Linked DNA regions of Homo sapiens. The protein of the gene in region 1 interacts with the protein of each later gene in a biochemical or structural test. Each region holds a gene or a part of one and is shown in the gene's direction. Other genes may lie near its edges.

Region 1 (7,753 bases):
ATTTTAAAGATGGGATAGAATTAGAAACATAATAACCACCAATAGCATTTAATGTTAAGAGAGCATTTGGTAAATGAAAGGTAGCTCAGTTAAAAATAAACAACTACGCGAACAGCCTGTCTAAAACTCATACTAAGAAAAAGCAGTGAAGCCCTGGCCCTAACACTTAAAATAATAGACTGGGAAATTAAAACCAACCTGCTCAGACTTCCACAGGCGAAGTATCCTTTTTGGGGAAAAACTAGGAAGGGAGAGCAGTACCCCTAATTAACTAATGGAAAAATGGGCTGGGCATGGTGGCTCACGCCTATAATTTCAGTACTTTGGGAAGCCAAGACAGGGAGATCACTTGAGGCCGGGAGTTCAAGACCAGTCTGACCAACACAGAGAAACCCCGTCTCTACTAAAAGCACAAAATTAGCCGACGTGGTGGTGCATGCCTATAATCCCAGCTACTCGGGAGGCTGAGGCAGGAGAATCGCTTGAATCTAGGAGGCGGAGGTTGCGGTGAGCCCAAATCACGCCATTGCACTCCAGCCTGGGCAACAAGAGCAAAACTCTGTCTCAAAAAACAAATAAAAAACAAAACAAAACAAAAAAGACAAAAAAACAGAAAAAGGAAAAATGAAATGTTGCCAAGAAATATATTTTCTGTGCTACTTTTCAAATGGCCACTAAGGTTGAAAAGTGAAAAGTCCATGGAAATCTCTTTGGGGTTGTGGTACTCCTCATGGGTGAATCTAGGCTCTTATCAGCATGTGTGTTTTAGAATCATCCAGAGTTCACCAGGCGCGGTGGCTCAAGCCTGTAATCCCAGCACTTTGGGAGGCCGAGGCGGGCGGATCATGAGGTCAAGAGATCAAGACCATCCTGGCCAACATGGTGAAACCCCGTCTCTACTAAAAATACAAAAATTAGCCGGGCGTGGTGGCACCCACCTGTAGTCCCAGCTACTAGGGAGGCTGAGGCAGGACAATCGCTTGAACCCGGGAGGCGGAGGTTGCAGTGAGCTGAGATGGCGCCACTGCACTCCAACCTGGGGACAGAGTGAGACTCCGTCTCAAAAAAATGAAAAGAATCACCTAGAGTTTATTTTATATGTTGAGTGTGTGTGTGTGTGTGTGTGTGTGTACATGCATGCGTTTTGGAAACATCCATGAACAGAAATATGAATGTTCCCAAAATGCAATGTAGCACACTAAGCAAACACCCTCTAGGAAATGTAATTCCTCTCTTGGTTGTATTTTTTTATTGCACACTTATCTATAAAATAGTTTAAGTGCATAATATACATTTATATTATGTATAGACAGAAACAAAGGCTCTAGGACCAAGAGGGACATACAAAATGTGTTTAACTTTAAAATATTTATTATAAACAAAGTAGAAACACAAAAACTTCTATAATCAAGAAGAATAAACACCAAAATGTATATGTTCTTCTACAGGATTAAAATAATATCAAAATACAAATATAAATTTAATAAGGACCTGTCCAGCATGTTATACTTACACACGACTTGTGGCATTTCTTTGAGATGAGAGAAAGAAGCAATGTTTTCAGGAAAACAGTGTCTGTGATTCTAAGGTTTCTGAGCCAGAACCTCACCCTTGTTCTCACTCCAAAGACAGCTTCTTCTTACACTGAAAGAAGGGCAAGTGAAAAGTGACAATTTGGGTCAATGTGATGCAAGTCTAACGTTTTAGATGTTGAGTTCTATTAAAAAAATCAACTAATATAAATTCCTTGGAAAATGGCCTCAAAATTAAGCAGACTGTGAGAGATATAAAAAACACTGTCTTACTTTAAATGTCATGCTTTTCTGGAGATAATTTAAAACAAATTGGGTTCAGGAAAAAGAGACTATTTCCCCGAATCTCTGGTGTAGTGTTCTAATCTATTAAAGGTCAATGAATAATCACTTAATAAACACAACATGCTAGTATTACTTCAAGATGCTTAGCGTTTTGCTTTTAAACTCTTCCCAAGATGTCCTACAATATTATTGACATATCAATGTTATTATAACACATCATTAACAGACTATTAGATAAAAAATTTGTGGGGTGTAAGTCTTCTCATGTAATTCTTCCACAGCTGAGAAAGCCATATTATATAACTGCAAGCTAAACACAGCAAACTAGTGGCTAAACAGGTTTTCCCCAAAAAATGAATAAATCAAGTTTATTTTGCAAGTTGTTTAAAATAGAAAAATCAGATTAATCACATATTACTCATGGGATTTTATGATTTTTGATAATTTACCAAAACATTAGCACATCATACAGCTCACAACTGTAGAGTGAGTATCCTGTTGATCTTCTTTCTCTAAAGAAGGGGTGTGTTTGATGGTTGCTCTGGTGATTATCACTGTTTTATGAATAGGGGAATGTAAAAGCACGCCAATAAGGCCGAAGCACAAATTACAACTGTATTGTAGTGACTTGAAATAGTATAGCCAGGGCTCCTTTCAGATGAAACTTGAGCTCCTTTAGGTGCCCATTCAGTAAATCCTGTCCCGTGAGGTTTGAAAAGATGTACCCTGGCAAGTTCTCACACTCATCTTTTTTTTACACTGATAACAGCATATGGGTAAGCCACAAACATAAATGACGCCAAAATGGGAGGAAAATCGGGACAGATTTTCTTTGGATCAAAAAACCTAGTTAGTTGGTAAGGAACTCTGCAATTAGTTGTGACTCATTTCCATCATCCTAAAATAATACTAAATGAATGGCTGTAAGAAGATAGGTTAACTGAATTGTTGACAAATGGCATAGGCATGAAAATGACCCAACAGCCCCTTGTAAGCCAGAAGAGCCATCAGAAAGGAAGCCAGATTTCTCTCTGCAAAACGTTCGTTTGTTTTGCAAGTGAGAGAGGGCAAAGATACTTCAGATTCTTTTTCTTTTTTTTTTCCTTTTCGTGCTTAAGGCCTTGAATTCAAAATTAGGCCTTTGAATTAAATTAAAAAGAATGTAAGTAAATAATAGTGGGGGAAAGGCAAATCATTTCATGGGGTGTAGAGTTAATAGTTAACCTGATAATAAGGCCAGAATCTCATTCCATATGTTAAACTACCCCAATTAGCTAGTGATCAGTGTCTAACTATCAGGCATTATTGCTGAAGTGCAAGCAGGGGCTCCAGGAGGCTAGAGGTCAGCGACAGGTCTCTGGGCTCTCCCAACAGAGGACCAGCCAGGGAATTTGTTCTAGTTAAAACTAGAGGGTTTCCGTCTGTTTGCTTTTTTTCTGACTTTAGTCACTCTTGGTTTGTTATCATTTGTATTATTTATTTTACGGTTAAACTATAAGCCTAAGTTGCATCACTGGCGCCCCGAGAAACCTCCTCCCACAGGCCCGCTGGGGCTTTGTCCTTGGGCATCCGTGGCCTCTCCAAAGCCAAAAGACGTCGGGGCCAGCTCAGGTCGCCTGAGTAAACACAAACCTGGGAAGCCGAGGGCCCCCTAAGTCAGTAGTGAGGGAGCTCCTCCTGGAAACCCACAGCGACCCTGAAGGGCTCAACCTCGAGCAGGACCTTTCCTCCATATTCCAACGCAGTCAGAGGAGCCCTGGGTTCCCCCCGCGTAGCCTCACCGCCCCACGCCGGCCCACTCTGTCCCCTCATCCTCCCTTGCTGTCCTACTCTGTCCCTCGCCATCCCTCACAGTCCCACACTGTCCCTCACCGCCCCTCACAGTACCTCACCGTCCACTGTCCCACACTGTCCCTTGACATCCTTCATTGTCCCTCACCGCCCCTCACAGTGCCTCACTGTCCACTGTCCCATACTGTCCCACACTGTCCCTTGCCATCCTTCACTGTCCGAGTCCCTCACAGTCCCAAAGTCCCTCACTGTCCCACAGTCCCTCACCGTCCCACACTGTCCCTCACTGTCCTACACAGTCCCTCACTGTCCCTCATCGTCCCGCACTGTCCCTCACCGTCCCACACCGTCTCTCATCGTCCCGCACTGTCCCACACAGTCGCTCACCGGTCCACACGGTCCCTCATCATCCCACACTATCCTTCACTGCCCCACACAGTCCCTAAGTGTCCCTCACTGTCCCTCCCACGCCGCAAGCCCAGTCGAGAGCGGCTCCCCTCTCCCCCTCCAGGGCTTCTTCGGCCCACACGGCCAGCGGCGGCCCGCGGAGAGGAAAAAACACACAATCTTGCCCGGAGCCTGAATTTATGGGAAATCCCGCGCGAAGCGCGATGTGCCCTCAGTTCGGGCAGGAACAGCGGCCGAGGCCCGGGTCGCCGCGGGCTTCTGAGGAAAGCTCGGCGTTGAGAGGCTCCCAGGGCTGCCGCACGGCTCAGGCAGAGGAGCGGAGCTGCGGCCGCGGTCAGCCCGGAGACGCCTCTCCGGGAGACAAAGCCGGCTCCCTGCAGCGCCGCGATACGCCACGGTGGGCCCGGCGCAACGCCTCGGCCACGGCATCGCCCCTTTAAGCGGCGCGCGCCCTGATTGGCTGCGGGAGGAGGCGGGGCGGGACGCGGCGACCTCACGGCCCGGCGGCCTATGCTATATATAGAGGCGGCGGCGGCAGCCGCGGCGACGGCGGTCCGGTGCGAGGCAGAGTGCTAGCGGGAGCGCGAGCCAGCAAGAGGCGCCTGCGCGATGTCCGGGCCCCTGAGCCCGCGGCGCTGAGCCAGCCGGGACGGACATGCGCGGGAGGGCGCCGCGGGGCAGCCGCCGCTCCTCCGGGGTAAGGGGCCTGGCGCGCTGAGGGGGTGGGGAGGGCCACGCAGCGCTCCGTTCCCTCAGGGGGCCCCGCGCCGGGCGCCGGGATCCAGGCGGCTCCCCGACGCGAGGGCGGGGGCGTGGAGGGCGCGGGGAGGGTCGCCGCGACGCGGAGTCTCTGGGATGGAGGGAGAGGCCGGCCGGTCGCTCGCGGGCTTCTCCCCATTGAGGTGTGGAGAGCGGGACCCTCCCCGGCGGCGCAGCCCGGGCCTGGGGACGCCGCGAAGTGCCGGCGCCCGCCGCCTTCTCCACGCCGGCTGTGGTCGTCGCGCGGCCCCTCGGCTGGCCGGGGCCATGCACCCGAGCGCCCGGGATACGTCCCCGCAGCACCGGGACCGCAGGAGCGGACGGGGGTTCGGGAGCGGCGAGCATGAAGGTCCTCGTCCCGCAGCCTGCGCTCGCGGGGTTGCCCGGCGGGGATGAGCGTCTTCGGGCCTGGGGGCTTGTTTGATTTTTTTTTTATTTGTAAAAAGGGGGTTGCGTTGTCTTGTTCACACCGTGTACCCGTAAATCCTGTCTTGAAAGCTGGGGTGGGAGGCTCGGCGATTGCTTGCGGTGGTTGGTACCGGTTCTCTGGCGGTCAGCCCCGCTCCCTCTGCCTAATCTCACAGCGACGATGGTAATGCCGAAATCAGTATTTAAAAATTCGTCTAAGCTGTTCTGAACTCTTCCTTCTCTCCTAGAAACGTGATTCTTTGCTCTGAGTGTCTTAAGTACGGCTTTGAATGGAATCGGACTGCAAAATTATGTGTTCAAGACGTGAATGCTTATTGGGAATTTTGTGTGTGTATTTATATGTATATCATAGCCCTGTACAAATTAGATGACTCTTTAACCGTGAATGGTGCTGTATTAGTGCTTGCTAAGTCTTTATTAGGATTTCATCATTGCTTGAAAGAAACCAGTCTCTTACCTGATAAAAATATGAATAGATGGTTAGTCATAAACTTAAGTCAGAATGGAGACTGTAGCTTTAAAAGAGATGTGTCGGTGACTTGAGGTACACCTGCAACACAGGTAGGGCAAGACTGGTTTCTAGGCAACTGTCAGGGGTGAAGAAAGGTGAGGTTAAAATGCCCTTTTTTTCCCTTCCAGAACAAATGTTCAACCTTTTATAAATGTGTAAGAATGCAGTGGGTACACACATTTGTTGAGACTGAACATCCCAAGTTCACCGTACCTATTTTTTTAACTGCATTTCTTTTCTTATATTTCTGTAATTACAATATACAGTTTTAAGTGAAATTTTATTTGAACAGAGACCAAAGACAGGCTAGGTATCAGCAAATGATCAAATTTTGCAAAGACCAAAATAAAAGAAGCTGGTTTCTTGCTAACATGCTGGCTATAATTGGTTACCAATATGTTATCAAGCAAGTTCTTTTCCAGATATTAGCAAGTTTGAAGAAAAATAACAAAGGATTTAGCATGGACTTCAGAAACTATTTGTCATTCCCTTTGCTTCAAGCAGAAGTTTATTTTCACCTGTGTGTTCCAGGGGACACTCGATAATAAGTGATAGAGGTCTTAGACTAACGATTTATAACCTGACAGATATATTAGATTGTAAACTCCTTAAGGGTAGGCACTCTGCCTTGTATAGCTTCTATCTTATGCAGCCTTGCACATAGTTGATGTTGATAAATAATTGCATGAAAGCATGTTTTACCTTTTAAGGCTCAGCAGGATTGGAGCAGTCATTGATAAGGGTTGGAAAGCAAATCTGTTTAATTTTTTTATGGCTGTTATGAAATGCCTGAATTATTGATATTTTTGACGGGTAAAACTGTTGTTTCAATCATCGGTTTTCCTACTTGCAGTTCACAATATATACTGGTCACTCTTTATAAGATTTAATTATGCTTGAGTTTTTGTGTGAAAATACCTCTTGACTGCTGCTTCTCAAAAGTTGAGCTAGATAATACTTCCTTTCTGCTGAAACTAATGGTGGCTTTTCAAAGCAATTTGCGTAAATTACAGGCACAATCTAACATGCTTGAAACTGACCTGATTGTCTGCATACCATCAGATTGCTTTAGAAAGGAGCAGAGGAAGGAAAGGAGGTGTCAGGGGTAACTCCAGGAATTGGAATGGCATAGGCTCCCTCTGCCAGAGAAACAACTCTGCTCTTGATCTAAATAAATTTGAATTGGTACCTCATCATCTGGATCCATTTGGATACATTTAGCATCCTTTGCGGGTGTCTGGCTATACAAAAGCTAATAAAGAACTCGCTACATAAACGCAGTCCAGTTGTGGTATTCTGGCATTGTTCACACAGCATAAACACGTGCTTTGTAAAGGTAGATGAGGCGAATGAGTTTGAGGGTCCTAAATGTAAGTTACTACCTTAACAATTAGTTTTAAGATAGGGAAAAGTTACTGAGGGGGGTTCAGATTTCAGAAGGTGGTGGGGAGGATTCTCAGATTTCAAGTCTTTGTTGATACTGTAGTCCAATTCCTCACACCATAAAATTGGGCAATATTACGAAAAGACCACTCTTCCAGGTCTCAATGAATGTGTCTTTAAAATGTGGGGCTTTTGGCCGGGCTCAGTGGCTCAGGCCTGTAATCTCAGCACTTTGGGAGGCCAAGGCGGGCAGATGGCTTGAGCCCAAGAGTATGAGACCAACCTGGGCAACATGGTGAAACCCTGTCACTACAAAAAAACACAAAAATTAGCTGGGTATGGTGGCACACGTCTGTAGTCCCAGCTACTCAGGAGGCTGAGGTGGGAGGATTGCTTGAGCCTGGGAGGCAGAGGTTGCAGTAAGCCAAGATCACACGACTGCACTACAGCCTGGTGACAGAGTGAGACTCTGTCTTTAAAAAATAAACAAACAAAAAAATGTGGGGCTTTGGCTACAGAAATGGAGCCCTTTTCAACTTGGAAACAATAGGAAGGTAAGGATTGGAAGACATTATCCAAAAGCTCTTATTCAATACCCCAGATGTGAAACTGGACTAGTTACAGATTGTTTTTTAAACAACTATTCGCTCAGTAG
Region 2 (8,199 bases), on another chromosome or scaffold:
AGTTAGTTCCTAGTTCTGAAGGATTTCATTCAAAGTGCAAGGCTCATGTTAATAGGAATATGCATGCATATTCATGTGCTATATGTATTAAAAATACTTGAGAAGGTGATTTAGAAATCTCAGTTTTAAATCTTCATGGGAAGAATCTTGCTTGTTTTGTTGCCAAGGAAGGTGAATGGGTTGAAAATAGTTTTAAAGCCCTTTACGTGCGAAGTCATGAATCTAAAGAGGATAAACAGGTTAGGTTTGTTATCCCAGAAGCTAGAGGCAAGATTTTTACTCAGTTCTTTCAACATTACCACAAGCATGTGGATTCTGCAAAAGTTGCCTAGCAACATTAGTTAGAAACAACATTGGGTGGAGAAAGGAACTGGAAATTTGAATTAGATACGGCCTGGGGCAGGCGGGTGTAACCCATCTCTCCAGTACAGTGTGTGCTTTACTCAGAGGAGCGTGAAATTTTAAAAATCAGAACAGTCACTTAAAATTTCAGTTAGGATGTTGCTACAGTTAAACCATAATATTGTGCCATGTTCTCAGCTTGAAGAGGCAGGGCCTGGGTTTCTCACTTTTGTTTTGTTTTGTTATTTTGGCACTTTTGTTTTAAAGATCACTGGATTTTCATTAAATTATTCTAGAAACATTTATTAAGCACTTTCTCAGGGGCCAAGGCACAGTGCTGGTTGCTGGAGCTCTGAAGACAAACACAGTTTGGACCCTGCCCTGGGCAGTGTGAAAACCAGACAAGTAAACAAAGTAAGAGTGTTACATAGTCCGTGCTGGGTGCGGTGGAAAGTCTGGAGTAGGGAATGGAGAGTCAGGAAAGGCTTCACAGAGGAAATGGCTCTAGCACTGAGTCTTGGTTTCAACTTAAAAAAAAAATTCCTTCAGCCAGGTGCAGTGGCTCACACCTGTAATCCCAACCCTGTGAGAGGCTGAGGTAGGCAGATCACTTGAGCTCAGGAGTTCAAGACCAGCCTGGGCAACATGGTGAGACCCGGTCTCTACAAAAAATACAAAAATTCACCAGGTGTAGTGGCACTTGCCTGTAGTCCTGGCTACTCAAGAGGCTGAGGTGGGAGAATTGCTTGAGCCCAGAAGGGGAGGTTGCAGTGAGCCGTGAACGCACCACTGCACTCCAGCCTGGGCAATAGAGCAAACCCTTGTCTCAAGGAAAAAAAAAAAAAAAATTATTTCCCCCAATCATTCTACACATTTATTGTGAACTTACCTCTTCGATTCTGTGTGAGGACTTCAAAGTCCTGGGTCTGTGGACCAAGAACTCTTCCCTTCCCATCCACAACCCAAGCCCTTCTGCCTGCCTTAGCCTACTTCAAAGACCTCCCATTTAGGGACGCAGACAGGTGGCAAAGTAGGAGTTGACAAAACAAAACAAAACATTGTTAAGAGTGTTTACCTTCAGGAAGGGGAACTGGGCTGGGATTTGAAGGGATAGGTGGGAGAATTTTGTACCATTTAAGTTTTTGTTACTGGAGTGGGGAAAAACCATGGGGAAAAATAGGAAGTGTGATGGCTGCTACCTCTACAATCTTGCATTAAATAGAGTACTAGAGTGGTGATCTCTGTTCAATTTTTTTTTTTTTTTCCTGAGATAGTTCTCGGTCTGCTGCCTAGGCTGGAGTGCAGTGGCACAATCACAGCTCACTGCAGCCTTCATCTCTCAGGCTCAAGGGATCCTCCCACTTCAGCCTCCTGAGTAGCTGGGACCACAGGCATGTGACACCATGCCCAGCTAATTTTTAAATTTTTAGTAGAGGTGAGGTCTCACTATGTTGTCCAGGCTGGTCTTGAACTCCTGGCCTCAAGTGATCCTCCTGTCTTGACCTCCCAAAGTGTTGGGATTGCAGGTGTGAACAACTACCACACCCGATTCAAAATCTTAAATAGGCAAACTTATCTGCAAATGTGCCAATTTAGGAAGCGAATAAACCAACAATTATTTAAATAAGGGCTCTTTTATCACTCACAAGGGAGTGAACGCCTAATCCACGTTAGAATACTGCAATAAACAAGGGTCCCCTACCCTCGGGGACCTTATTTTTCTAGAAGGAGATAGTAATAAACTAACAACGTACTTTGAGATAGAAATAAGCCTGCTAAGGAAATAAAGCCAGGTGTTGTGAAAGAGCAAAGAGTGAGGGAGGGGACGTGAGAACAGAGATACGGAATTCTTACATAGGAGGAGTTTAGGAGCATCAGTCTAGTTGTGGAGAGGCAACTAAAGGGCTTTAAAGTCCCATTTACTTAGAAAGCACACTATTTTCACATGCAGTTTATGTTACAGATCGATAAAAGTAGGGTTCTCTATTTTTATTTATGCTTCATAATAAATTGAGAAAATGTCAATTATATCAAATAATTATATTTGTCATCAGGAGTGGCAGGAGGGGGCCCACAGCCTGGGCAATATGGTGGCTCATGCCTGTAATTCCAGCACTTTGGGAGACGGAGACGGGCAGATTGCTTGAGCCCAGGAGTTCTAGACCAGCCTGGGCAACATGGTGAAACAGAGTCTCTACTAAAAATGCAAATATTAGCTGGGCGTGGTAGCACACATCATTAGTCCCAGCTATTTGGGAGGGTGAGGTGGGAGGATCTCTTGAGCCTGGGGAGATCGAGGCTACAGAGCCGTGATTGCACCACTGTACTCCACTTTGAGACAGGGTGGACAGAGTGAGACCCTGTCTCGAAAAATAAAAATTTAAAAAAAAGGAGTGGCAGGAGGGGAAGTGTTGGAGCAAGGGTTCTGAAAATCACTCCTTGGCTTTGGCCACTGTGGATCATTGACTAACTCTCCTTATACAAGTCTAGAATTCTTGTCCTCCAAGAGCTTAAAATTAAGTTTGCATGACCATATAAAAAACACATTTATACACCAGTTAGCAAATGTTAGGAGAAAAGACAGCTGTTGATCCTTCACTGTGTCTTCAGTTGTGTGATCTCAGGAAATTCCCGATTTGATGTGTTAAGTACTACCGTGTGTTTCAAGAAAAATTCAGCTTGAGTTTATTTAGCCTTTGAAAAGCATTAGAACAACATATATGACAAAGTGTTAATATGCATAAAGTGCTAACAATAAGAAAAATAGGCAATAGAGATAAATGTAAATTATCATTAAACCCATGACAACTGTTCAACAATATGAATCAAAACAACAAAACCACATCAACGAACATCCACTGATGTCCTGAATTCACAGAGTGTGCTCTAATCCACTGCTAGTGAGAATGTATTGTGTTTCTGGAGGGGGAGTTTGCCAGTTTATATCCTTTGACTGAGGAATTCTAACTCCAGGGAGGTATCCAAAAGAGTATTTTAAAAAGGCCAGGCGCGGTGGCTCACGCCTGTAATCCTAGCACTTTGGGAGGCCGAGGCGGGCAGATCACCTGAGGTCAGGAGTTTGAGACCAGCCTGCCAACATGGTGAAACTCCGTATTTTGCATTTTGTAAAAATACAAAAATTGGCCAGGCCTGGTATGTGCTTGTAATACCAGCTACCCGGGAGACAGGAGAATCGCTGGAACCCGAGAACCCGGGAGGTGGGGGCTGCAGTGAGCCGAGATCGCGCCACTGCACTCCAGCCTGGGGCGACAGAGCGAGACTCCGTGTCGAAAAAAACCAAACCAAACAAAAAACATGGAGAAGGAAGCATATACACCACGGGGTTGTTTACAACAGAAAACTGGAAGAGGCCGGGAGCGGTGGTTCACGTCTGTAATTCCAGCACTTTGAGAGGCCGAGGCGGGCGGATCACTTGAGATCAGGAGTTGGAGACCAGCCTGGCCAACATTGGGAAGTTCGTCTCTACTAAAAATACAAAAATTAGCCAGGTGTGGTGGCAGCCGCCTGTAATCCCAGCTACTCGGGTGGCTGAGGCATGAGAATCGCTTGAACTCTAAAGGCGGAGGTTGCAGGTTGTAGTGAGCCGAGATCGTGCCACTGCACTCCAGCCTGGGTGACAGAGCAAGACCCCGTCTCAGAAAAAAAAAAAAAAATAAATAAACAAAGAAAGAAAAAAGAAAACTGGAAGAAACGTGTAAGTGCATTAAGGGACAGATTAAATCAGTTTAACGAAGCACTAGGGAAATTTTTTAAAATTGCGTTTGAGTTTGCCGCGAGCCGGGCCAATCGGTTTTGCCAACGCATGCCCACGTGCTGGCGAACAAATGTAAACACGGAGATCGTGTGCCGGGCACTTGGTTTCGTGGTGGGCAACTGTGCTGCTGTTTCTTTTGGCCGCGGACAAGGTCGGCAGAGGTGGACCCCTGCTTGGGAGAGCTCTTCTCGCTGTGCTGACACCCGCCCCTAACAGTCACCCACCCCGGGGAAATAATGGGGCTCGGAGGCCTCCTCCCAGCCAGTGTCCAGCCTAAGCACATCGGCTCCCGCAGTTCAGAAAGGTCCCGAGGCCCGAGTCACCATTTCCGGCTCAGACCTCGACCCTGAACGTGGCTGCCCACTGCCACGCCCACTACGCCCCAGTGGCTCGCCCCAGGGGACGAGGGGCAAGAAGCGGCCTCCGAGGGCAGCGGCCGAAGGCCATTCGGTCCCTGGCTCTTCCCAGCTCGCAGAGACCCGGAGGCGCTGCCCGGCCGCCTGCCCCTCTTCAGATCCCCCAGCACCGGAGGAGCAGCGAGGGGGGTGCGTCCAGGCCGGCTTTCGGGTCGGCTTAGGCGAATCCAGCTCTCTTTTGCCCCTCCCAGAAGGCCCAGCCCCGTCCGGGCGGTGTTCGGGCGGCGCCGGGCCGGGCCCCCCGCCGCCCCAGGCTCGCTCATAGGCCCGGAACACCACAGCCCGCCCAGACTTGGCTGGCGCCGAGCCGGGGGTGGAGCCAGCGGGTTCCCGCCAAAATCGCGTAGCTGGTCCTTCCCCCGCGGGCTACGTCGCGCCCTCCTTTTTTTTTCAAACCCGGAGCTGCACTGGGATTGGTGGACTGGGCACTCACGTGGTTAACGGTCGCGGGAAGCCGCGGAGCCCGAACCTGAGACTGGACCTGAGGAGACCTCAGCCTCGGTGCTCGGGCCGCCCCGCCTCTGCCGGAAAGTCCGCGCCGCCGCTGCCGCCACCGTCCGCAGCCCGAGCGCCCCGGAGCCGCAGGCCGCCGCCGCGCAGAGACGCCGCGGCTGCGACTAGGCGCGCCCAGCCGCACGTGGCGGACCCGCCCCCAGGCCCGCAGTGTCCTGGACCCCGCAGGCCTCCGCTCTCCTGTCCTCGGCCCCGTCCCCAGGGCCGCGATGAGCTTCCTGAGCCGACAGCAGCCGCCGCCACCCCGCCGCGCCGGGGCGGCCTGCACCTTGCGGCAGAAGCTGATCTTCTCGCCCTGCAGCGACTGTGAGGAGGAGGAAGAAGAGGAGGAGGAGGAGGGCAGCGGCCACAGCACCGGGGAGGACTCGGCCTTTCAAGAGCCCGACTCGCCGCTGCCGCCCGCGCGGAGCCCCACGGAGCCCGGGCCCGAGCGCCGCCGCTCGCCCGGGCCGGCCCCCGGCAGCCCCGGCGAGCTGGAGGAGGACCTGTTGCTGCCCGGCGCCTGCCCGGGCGCGGACGAGGCGGGCGGTGGGGCGGAGGGCGACTCGTGGGAGGAGGAGGGCTTCGGCTCCTCGTCGCCGGTCAAGTCGCCGGCGGCCCCCTACTTCCTGGGTAGCTCTTTCTCGCCGGTGCGCTGCGGCGGCCCAGGAGATGCGTCGCCGCGGGGTTGCGGGGCGCGCCGGGCGGGCGAAGGCCGCCGCTCGCCGCGGCCGGACCACCCGGGCACCCCGCCACACAAGACCTTCCGCAAGCTGCGACTCTTCGACACCCCGCACACGCCCAAGGTGAGAGCGGCGGGCGCGGGCACCCGGCGGCCGGGGCCGCGGCGCCGGAGGGGCCAGCGCCGCTGCCTGGGTTCGGTTACAGAAGCGGCCGGCCGCTCCCCCCTCGCTTTCCTGCGCCGCCCCCCAAAGTTGGCAGCCCTTGTGTTTGGCCCTGCCCCGAGGTTGTCCGTTGAGATTATGTAACTGAACAATGGGCCTCGTCTGGAACTTCATCTTACAAAGGGGCCGATCGGCCCGTCCGGGTGGCCAAGGATTTGCCGCCCGTTGAGTCCGGGCCGCCCCGAGCGTGTCAGCCCCGAGTGCGGCACCGATAACGCGGTTCGCGAGGATGCTGGAGGGTGCCGGCCCGGCCACCTGACACTCCCGAGCCATAGGATGCCTTTTAAACGCGGCGATCGGGCCTGTAATTTGGGCGGCGCGGGCAGAAGGAGTTTAAAGAAAAATAATTGTCCCGCCCTGATCGTGTCGTGTCGTGTGGCGTGGATGGGGGAAAGGTCTGGGGCATGCAGGGAGACTACGCTTGGACTTGGGAGTAAAGGCTGGCCTTCCAAGCATTTACAGTCCTACAGACTCATCCTAAGTCCAGGCAGTACTGAGGCCTGTTTCTGGACAAGGTCTTGGCCCAGCATTTGTTTTTATCGTGGGTTTGCGGTGCCCAGAGTTTGGCCGGCCTCCGTGTGATTAGGAACATCCTACCGTAGATAAGGTATCTTAAAGAAGGAGGTGTTCAGCACCTGTGTTTTGAAAGGCCTTCGAGTACTGCGCAGATGACCACTTTTAAAACTGCAGATTTTAAAGCTGATACTTCCAGAGATTAAGACAAGCCTCGCATTTGTAAGGTTAACAGGGAAGATGCACCTTTTAAAGTGAGTTTGTTTTGTTTTCAATGTACTGTTTGTCATCAGCCTAGGCAATCTGTGTGCTTTCGAGCTGTACTGTTTATTGGCCGACTTGCTCAAGGCAAAATCCCTCTGGAAGTGAGGGGAGGAGTCCAGCGGAGGTGGCTATGGAAGCCCTATCTAGATGGGGGAGGGGAGATTTTATGGGGCTCTCGGACTGCTTTCTATTTTTGGATGGGTTGAAAGAATTTGTTAACTTTTAGCCACTAGAATGAACTTAGTTTTAGGCAGCATTTATATTCTTTTTAGGGTTAGAGGCAGATTTTACTTGGCTATTTTTTTCAAGAAAAGATAGTTAATATCCAGCTTCAGTCTTCCTAAATTAGCCACAATTTATTTTGCTTGAACTCTAACAAAGGCTTGTGTGTTGCTTTCACCTACGCATTCAGCCCTATGAAAGGCTCGTTGAAGGTTAGGTTGAGAAGGCTGACTATAGGACTTGGATCCTAAAAATTGTATTTGTATTTTTCTTTCCCTAGAGTTTGCTCTCCAAAGCTCGGGGAATTGATTCCAGCTCTGTTAAACTCCGGGGTAGTTCTCTCTTCATGGATACAGAAAAATCAGGAAAAAGGGAATTTGATGTGCGACAGACTCCTCAAGTGAATATTAATCCTTTTACTCCGGATTCTTTGTTGCTTCATTCCTCAGGACAGTGTCGTCGTAGAAAGAGAACGTATTGGAATGAGTAAGTCGTTTATTTAACAGTTTGGTTCTCCAAATAACCTAAGATTGGTTTGGTATACTTATCAAAATTTAGTTCCTATTTAATGGCATGGATGTATCTGTCAGATATATTGATAGAAAAATAACATTTTTTTTAGTTCCTGTGGTGAAGACATGGAAGCCAGTGATTATGAGCTTGAAGATGAAACAAGACCTGCTAAGGTAAATAGCTTTTTATTTTTATTTTTTTGAAATTTACTTTTCTGCCACTTAAAGCATGCTATGAATATGTTAATAAGCATTAACACATAAGGTAGAATGGTTTTTAAATTTCACACATAGCCCTATCACCATAGCAAGAAATAACTGTTTTCGTATATTTGTATTACATATATGGAAACACTTTTTATTACAGAGAATTACAATTACTGAAAGCAATATGAAGTCCCGGTATACAACAGAATTTCATGAGCTAGAGAAAATCGGCTCTGGAGAATTTGGTTCTGTATTTAAGTGTGTGAAGAGGCTGGATGGATGCATTTATGCCATTAAGCGATCAAAAAAGCCATTGGCGGGCTCTGTTGATGAGTATGTATTAAACATTTTGTCTTTTGCTCTTTTGTCCCCTATGGTGTTACTAACATTAAGGTTTCAGCTGGTCAAACACTGAATTCCATCTCTAACTTTTGAGAAGCTGTAATGATTTAATCAGGTCCTTTTCACTTAATACCATCAGTTCTTATTGGACTTGTTGAATAATATGAGTCTGATTTTGGAACCTAACTTAAATTTCTTATTTCTAGTCA

Evidence for each region. Proteins that work in one complex are often made in the same cells at the same time.
Region 2: the proteins of ERRFI1 (region 1) and WEE1 form a complex in vitro, tested with the Homo sapiens proteins (one study listed by BioGRID).

Annotation. Positions count from the first base shown.
Region 1 is NC_000001.11:8,023,118-8,030,870, reverse strand, and holds the start of ERRFI1 (ERBB receptor feedback inhibitor 1), read left to right. Parts: upstream 1-4,561; 5' UTR 4,562-4,713; intron 4,714-7,753.
Region 2 is NC_000011.10:9,568,679-9,576,877, forward strand, and holds the start of WEE1 (wee1-like protein kinase), read left to right. Parts: upstream 1-4,991; 5' UTR 4,992-5,255; coding exon 5,256-5,831; intron 5,832-6,008; exon of another isoform or gene 6,009-6,697; intron 6,698-6,814; exon of another isoform or gene 6,815-6,831; intron 6,832-7,209; coding exon 7,210-7,415; intron 7,416-7,551; coding exon 7,552-7,615; intron 7,616-7,808; coding exon 7,809-7,981; intron 7,982-8,199. UniProt on the Homo sapiens protein: Acts as a negative regulator of entry into mitosis (G2 to M transition) by protecting the nucleus from cytoplasmically activated cyclin B1-complexed CDK1 before the onset of mitosis by mediating phosphorylation of CDK1 on 'Tyr-15'.